Homo sapiens: one gene and its partner. The main gene of each other region encodes a partner of the protein of the gene in region 2 in a complex. Links are inferred from orthologs where the notes say so. Each region holds a gene or a part of one and is shown on either strand. Other genes may lie near its edges.

Evidence for each region.
Region 1: the proteins of KATNA1 (region 2) and KATNB1 are in contact, whole or in part, in a crystal structure (PDB 5OW5), measured with the Mus musculus proteins. The link is inferred for Homo sapiens from one-to-one orthologs. Residues at the interface, in NP_035965.2 of Mus musculus: Leu5, Gln6, Ile8, Val9, Val12, Arg16, Ala19, Leu20, Leu21, Gly22, Tyr24, Tyr31, Tyr41, Leu50, Lys53, Trp54, Gln56, Val57, Glu60, Ile61, Val63, Glu64, Gln67, Val68, Asp70, Ile71, Thr74, Leu75, Ser77, Phe78; in NP_083081.2 of Mus musculus: Leu485, Val486, Asp487, Glu488, Ala490, Met491, Gln493, Ile494, Arg495, Gly497, His498, Met501, Phe502, Val504, Leu505, Thr506, Arg508, His509, Leu512, Asp513, Val515, Arg516, Trp519, Thr521, Asp542, Leu543, Ile546, Gln549, Lys550, Leu553.

Annotation. Positions count from the first base shown.
Region 1 is NC_000016.10:57,745,720-57,749,627, reverse strand, and holds part of KATNB1 (katanin p80 WD40 repeat-containing subunit B1), read right to left. Parts: intron 1-3,908.
Region 2 is NC_000006.12:149,646,736-149,650,643, forward strand, and holds the start of KATNA1 (katanin p60 ATPase-containing subunit A1), read right to left. Parts: upstream 1,980-3,908; 5' UTR 1,734-1,979; intron 1,509-1,733; exon of another isoform or gene 1,386-1,508; intron 1-1,385. UniProt on the Homo sapiens protein: Catalytic subunit of a complex which severs microtubules in an ATP-dependent manner. Microtubule severing may promote rapid reorganization of cellular microtubule arrays and the release of microtubules from the centrosome following nucleation.

The DNA of each region.
Region 1 (3,908 bases), on a different chromosome or scaffold from region 2:
ATGAAACTGACCATCCCAAGTGCCAGGGTCAGGAAATGTGGGAGTCCAGCCATTCTTAGTTTTGAGCCAAGGTGCAATAGGTCACCTTGTGAGGTAGTGAGCTCTCTGTCAGAGGAGGTATTCAAGATTCCATATATAACACTTTACTGCAGAGTCAAGATCCAAGCACTGGGTGAATTAAATGAACTCTACTGTATGATCTTCTCTACCCCCAAAGTCAGGATGTGGGCTCTGGCATCAGACAATACTGGGATCAGCCTTGGCTCCGCTCCTCACTGGTGGTGTGACCCTGGCCAATCACTTACTGTCTTTGGGCCTCATGTTGGGTCACAGAATGGAGTAAACATACATAAAGTGCTTAGCACGGGCTCTGCACATGGTAAGTGCTCAATAAATGCCAGTCTTAATTAGTCCCATTCACATTTCTTCCTGCACAAGGCCTGCCTTCTGCTCTTGGCTGTCCCGCAAGCTGGGCCTTCTCTCCTCCTCCCCAGGCCTCAGTGCCCCTCTGCAGCTGGCCCTGTCTGGCGCTGGAGCTGGGTCTGGATACTTTCACATCCCTCTGGAGTCTGTCGAATGCATATCCAATTCACCTGCACCAGAATCTCTGCAGCTGTCACTCCTTGCTCCGTGTAGCTATCAGGTGCTGCTGGGGGCTGGGCATTGCCTCCTGGCCAAGGAGGCCACGCTGGCTCTTGCTCCAGTCCACACCCGCTCCCAGCCCACTCAGCTTGGATCCCACAGCAAGGCTTCCAAAATCCTGCCCTGCCCAGAGAGGATGTGGCGGAGTCCCACCCTGTGTGGGCTGGCTGCATGAAGCACCGGCCGCCCTCCTGTGAGATCCCGTGGGATCCCCTGCGCTGAGCTACCCTTGCCCTCTGGCTGCGCTGTGGAAAGCAGGCAGGACCACATTCTTCCGGCTTGACTCCTGCCCTTGCTCTTCTGTCCCACGAAGGCCTCTGATGCCTACATTCAATCATGGGATCTAGGAACTGCAGAGTGGAGGGGCTTCCGGGGTCTGTCTGCCCCACACAGGAACCCCCAACGCCTCCCAGCTGAGCACCTCCTCAGCCTACATCTGAACCCTCCAGTGATGGGTGGCCTTTCAAGGCAACCGATATGAGGCAGCTCTCTCTCTCTCCTTTTTTTTTTTTTTTTTAAAAAAATAGAGATGGGGTCTCCTTTTGTTGCCCAGGTTAGTCTTAAACTCATGGCCTCAAGTGATCTTCCTGCCTTGGCCTCCCAAAGTGCTGAGATTACAGGTGTGAGCCACCATGCCCGCAGAGCAGCTCTCTTTGGAACCTTTCCACACCTGGGGCCTCAATTTGCCTGTCTGTCACTGTCACCTGCACTCTGGCGAGGGGGTGTGGAGGGGGGCCGGAGGTCTTAGCTCTACCTGCTGTGCTGATGGCAAGTTTCTCTTCCATCCAATGGCAGAACAGACAACACTGGGATGGGAGTCCTGACACCGGGATTCAAGTCCCAGGCTCTGCTACCTGCAGCTACTGGGGTTTTCCTAAGCTCGGTGCTCTCCCTGGGCCTCTGTTTGCCCATCTGTCAACCTGGCTGTCCATCGGAATCACCTGGAAGCTTATTAAAATCCAGATCCTGGGCCCACCCCAGTACTGAATCGGGTTCTCTGAGGATGGAGTCTGGGCCGTGAGTTCGTAATGAGTTCCTTGTGGAGCAGCCAGCCCTGGCCGTCCAGGGCCCAGGAATCCAGCAATCTTCAGTTTTCATTTCTCAGCCACCTCAAGGAATTCCTCACATTTCCCCTGTGAGCAAAACAATTGTGGATGAGAAAGCCTGGACAGGGGGCACGGCGCCCTCGGCTTCTCCCTTCTGTCTCTTGTTCTTCGGTGAATACTGAATGGCTGGTGCCCACGCGCTGGGATTCAGGTCCAGGGAGCTGCCCACCTTCTGCCTGAGCCTTCCCATCTTCTCCATGAGAGCCCAGCCATCCTGGACTCACTCCTCCCTGGCCCGCTTGAGTTCAGCGACACCAAGCACAGCATGCCCTGGTGTGGCCAGGCAGTGCGATCACGTGCCGAGACGCAAAGCCTGCAGTCCTGTTTGTTATCAAAGAGGTCCTGGGGCTCTTTTGTTCTTAAACTGACCATCACTGAGTAGGCAAGCATCACTGAAGAGGCTGCGTGCATCTTTATTGAGTACCACCTACACAGAGAGCCCACTGTTCCTGAGCAAAGGGAACCTTGCCACTGTGCATGTGTGGCTCATGGCTGCTGCCCTGCCGCCAACATAGAGCATGAACCAAGGAGAGGCCCAGAAGAATCTTGAAGTCTCAGCCAGGCCAGAGGGGCTCTCTTCTGGAAAAAGCAGCCTCGGCAAAATCCACGTTGCTGCTTCCTCTCCAGGGCTTCAGGTAGGTGGCCTCCTGCCTGGCACGCGGGATGATCCAACAAGGGCTATCAAAAAGCATCAGGCAGGCCAGGCATGGTGGCTTATTCCTGTAATCCCAGCACTTTGGGAGGCTGAAGTGGGCGGATCACCTGAGGTCAGGAGTTCAAGACCAGCCTGGCCAACATGGAGAAACCCCGTCTCTACTAAAAATACAAAAATTAGCGGGACATGGTGGTCCGTGCCTGTAGTCTCAGCTACTCAGGAGGCTGAGGCAGGAGAATCGCTTAAACCTGGGAGACAGAGGTTGCAGTGAGCTGAGATTACACCACTGCACTCCAGCCTGGGTGACAGAGTGACACTGTCTCAAAAAAAGAAAAGAAAAGAAAAGCATCAGGCAAACGGGTCTTATTTGGACCTCACAGTGCTGGCCTGCATGGTGTTCTAAAACAAATGTTGAATGAGCTGTCAACATTTTTAAATGGGTGGATTCCACATGAATTTCCAGATTTCCAGCCTCTCTTGAAAAATCCGTAGAGCTGGCACCACCTGCTAAGGCACCAAGGCACATGAATTTCCAGATTTCCAGCCTCTCTTGAAAAATCCGTAGAGCTGGCACCACCTGCTAAGGCACCAAGGCACATGAATTTCCAGATTTCCAGCCTCTCTTGAAAAATCCGTAGAGCTGGCACCACCTGCTAAGGCACCGAGGCACAGCACAGGAGCAGTGGGCGAGACTCTCCGCTCAGCCCAGAACTGAGGGCATGAGTTTCCAGACCACAACCGCATGAAACCAGTGACGACCTAGCACAGGGTGGAAGCAGACCCACCCCAAGGCTCACCACACCAGAACACTGGGACAAAGACCCTAAAAGCCTGCAGAGACAGAGAGAGAGAGGAAAGAAAAGAGAGAGAGAGAGGAAGGAAGAGACAGAACATGGAATGAAGCCAGTCCCCTGTGAAGGATCTGGGATCAGAACAACACCGGCCCCTCCCAATAGCAACCTAGAACCTAAAAGGCAGAAAAGCTGCACCTTCCAAATTCTGAGGGCGATATTTTATTGCCAACATAGAACTCTATACTCAAACTCATAAAACAAACACAAAAGCAAATGATGGGGGTAGCAGAAAGTCATTTTCAGCCATGGAAGTTCTCCAAAACTATGCCTTCCCAGCACATTTTCTCAGAAAGCTACAAAAGAATGTGCTCCATCAAAAAGAGGGAGAAAACCAAGAAAGGTTGCGGCGTGGGACCAGGAACAACAGATGGAGAGAATTCCCCAGAGAAGAGACACAGAGGCCCAGGATGACAGCTGGGCTGCAGGTCACTAGGACCAGAGGAGAGGCTCTGAGAAAAGGCGCCTGGATTATGGGATGGGTTTCAAAGAAACAGGAGGAGCTTTACTCTTCTGGCAGAGAATTTGGGGATGAATGAGTAATATGGACATAGAAAACACACAGATTAAAAAAAAAAAGGAACTATTATTAACTCCAGGGAAACCAAGTTATTAAAAAGAAATAGTCAGTGGTAAATGACACTTATGCGTCCT
Region 2 (3,908 bases):
TAAACAAACAAATCAGTGAGTTTAATTATTAAAACGTAATTTAAAAGTCATATTCAAGCCCTATCGATAAACGCCACAAGCAAAAGCTATTTGGCATGTTATCAACACTGACCATATTTATGTGATAATACTATCTTTTTTAAACAGTCAAGTGGCTAAAAAAACCCAAACTATTGTTAATAGAAATTCAACAATGTTGTTAATAGAGTGAATTCAACAAGATTCTCTAATCCTCAATATTTGTCAGCATCTTGATACCAGTTTCAAAATGAGGTGGAGAATCCCTTGTGGACTACATAGCATGCCTATTACCTATAAAAATGTAAACGCTTCTTGAATAACCAACGCTATAAAGAAGCTTTATATAGCTTTTCATAGTCTAGGAATGTTGGGAAGTTGATCACTACTGCGTGTTTTTTTTTTTAAAGGTATTTACAGGCCACAACTTGTTAATGTTAATACAAAACAAAGTTTTGCTCCTATTTCTTGGTATAAGAACAAAAACCGGCCGGGCGCAGTGGCTCACGTCTGTAATCCCAACACTTTGGGAGGCCTAGGCGGGCGGATCACAATGTCTGGAAATCGAGACCAGCCTGGCCAACATGGTGAAACCCCATCTCTACTAAAATACAAAAAATTTGCCGCGCGTAGTGGAGCGCGCCTGTAGTCACAGCTACTCAAGGAGGCTGAGGCAGGGGAATCGCTTGAACCCGGGAGGCGGAGGTTGCAGTGAGCCAAGATTGCGCCACTGCACTCCAGCCTGGCGACAGAGCAAGACTCCGTCTCAAAAAAAAAAAAAAAAAAAAAAAAAAGAACAAAACCCAGCTCTTTTGGAAAAGAAAATAGGGCTTTATACTGAGACATTTAAGCCCGTAAAAACATTTCAAGAATCTGTCTTAACATCTACTAAGGTGATTATCATTGTGATTACGTGACAAAGATCTACTGCACCCATTCTAAAACATCGGGAATGTTTTCAGCAATAACTAGAGGTCTAATTTCAAAGAGGAAGACGTAAATTAGTGCTTTCAAGAGAAAAGAGCATCACTGTGCTGTTGGAAGTTAGTAACTAATATAAAAGCGGCCCTTCGCGGTTTTAACAGGAAACTATTTTTGATTAAATAAGAGCTTGAGATTATCCACTGTAAGGCACTTCAGGATCTACGTTTATCTCTAACTTTGTCATCACATTTGTATGAAACAACTGTTTCGAGGGAAAACTTTTCTAAAAGGTACCAACTCTAAACCAAAAGGCCCACAGGCCTTCCAGAGGACGCCGGGCTCTAGAATAAATAAGAAATAACATCCCCAACAATATCACTCGAACCTAACAAATTTTAAGAAAAGAAGTTGCCTCCCAATGTCATGGCCATCGGGATTTTTACCTGTGAGGGTTTCGGGGTGGGGGGCGTGAGCGGGTTCTGGAGAGAACCAGTCGAAAAATCGAAGAACTAAAAACTCGGCTGGTGACTTCGCTAACGACACAGATCAAAAGATGGGATCGACAGGAGCCCCCGAAAAGTCCTCCGCCTGACAGGATTCCTCAGGTAGGGGGACTGTCACCTAAGCCAAGTTATCGTGGACAACAGCAAGGACCTAGGACCTCAGCTCAGGCACAGGCAGGCTCACGGAGGGTTGCGCGGCGGGTTCTCGCTGTGGGCCCCCCGAGTCCCTCACCAGCCCGGCCCTGGAAAATCGGGGGTCCCCAGAGCACCGCCAGAGTGAAAACTCACCTGCGGCGGCCCAAGCTCCTCGGGAAACCGCCCAACGCCAGGCACAGGGGATTGGCGGAGTGGAGATCCCGGCAGCGAGGAAGGAGGGCCTGACCCAGTCCAGCCCACTTTGCTCTCCGCTCACGGCCCCAGTACTGCCCAGTTCAATCGTCAACACCACCTGCCGGCGCGGCTCCTGCTCGCCGAGAATTTGAAGACAAACCCGCCAGGGTCACTTCCGGTGCCGGGGACGACCTCGGCGACTCTGGCGCACGCGGGGCGTCGCCCCGGGAGCGAGGTCGCTGGGCGGGAGCGGCGGAAGAGGGTGTGGCCGGGCCCGGGGCCGCGCGTGCGCATTCTTGCACCGCCTCCTCCCGGCGGACGCAGCGGAGACCAGGGATAGTATAGACCTTGGTGTAGATGGTATTATGGTACTACCTCGCGCGCCTCTGTACCTTGTTCAGGTGCTTGCTCACTTTCCCTCCCACTTGATTTTCACCACACTCACACACACACCGAGGTCAGGTGTCTATTTTAGAGGTGAATGTCCAGGATCAAGCAATTCGTTTATGACAAATCCTGTTTTAGAACCTAGTATTCAGAATTCCCCAGCTGGGCTCCATGTCATGACATAACAATAGGGAGGAGGTAAACAAAGATTCTCGGACACACTGCTAGTGGGATTTTATTTTCTTGATTTTTTAATCACCGTTTTAATATGACCAGACAAGGAAAATGATGCTATTTCATGACTTACAGATATGTACTGCACAGGGCTTCCTCCAGTCTCAATCTCCACCCTCTGCCATCACTTGAGGCAGAATAGGGCACTTCTCACACATTCCTTTAAAAACGCAAGGTAATTAAGTTTCTAACATTAAAGCATCCCGACTGGGCACAGTGGCTCATCCCTGTAATCCCAGCACTTTGGGAGGCTGAGGCGGGAGAATAGCTTGAGCCGGGAGTTCAAGACCAGCCTGGGCAATATAGTGAGACCCCCCGTCTCTACAAAAAGTACAAAAATTGGCTGGACATGGTGGCGCACGCCTGTAGTCACAACTACTCAGGAGGCTGACACAAGAGGATCACTTGAGCCCAGGAGTTGGAGGCTGCAGTGGGCCATGATGGCGCCATTGCACTCCAGTCTGGGAGACAAAGTGAGGCCCTATCTCTAAAAAAATAAAAGCACCCCAGTCATCTAACATAGACATGTAGAAGCAATTCAGGGGAAATACATCCATTCAGTCAACAAATGTTTACTCAGCAACTACTATGTGTGAGACAGTGTTGGCACTGGGTATACAGTGGTCACGAAATAGAATGTTTCATGGGGCTTAAAGTCTTGTAACGTCTCAACTGAGTGGAAAATGATAGTTTCACTGTAGTAAATATGAACTCTATTGTAATAGGGAACAGGAAACTATATTTAGTATATATTTTTGGAATCAAAACCAATTCAGGGAGGTACAGATTAATTACCCTAATTCAACCTTCATCCTTTATGTGAGTTCAAAGGTATGCTAATTTATAAAGCCAATTTACAGTTAAAAAACTTCTCAAAGGCCACAAAATTAATACATATTGTATGATTCCATTGATAAGAAATTCTAGGCCAGGCACGGTGGCTCATACCTGTAATCCCAGCACTTTGGGAGGCCGAGACGGGTGGGTCACTTGAGGTCAAGGCGTTTGAGACCAGCCTGGCCAACATGGTGAAACCCCGTCTCTACTAAAAATACAAATATTAGCTGGGTCTGGTGGCGCACACCTGTAATCTCAGCTACTTGGGTGGCTGAGGCACGAGAATCGCTTGAACCCAGGAGGCAGAGGCTGCAGTGAGCCAAGATCGCGCCATTGCACTCCAGCCTGGGTGACAGAGCAAGACTCTGTCTCAAAAAAAAAAAAAAGAAAAAGAAAAGAAATTTTAGAACAGGCAAAACTAATCTATAATAATAGCTGATCAGTGGTTGGCTGCCTGAGGCTGTATTCAGGAGGAGGGGGAGAAGAAATAGATTGCTGAAAGTCCCCAGGAAATATTTAAGGTGATGGAAAGGAAATGTTCTGTTAGGGTAGTGCTTACACAGGTGTAAACATTTATTAAAATTCATCAACAGTACACAAACTGGGCACATTTTATTACGTGTACGTACGCGTATTATATATGAAGATTTTTTGGGTTTTTGTTGTTGTTTTGAG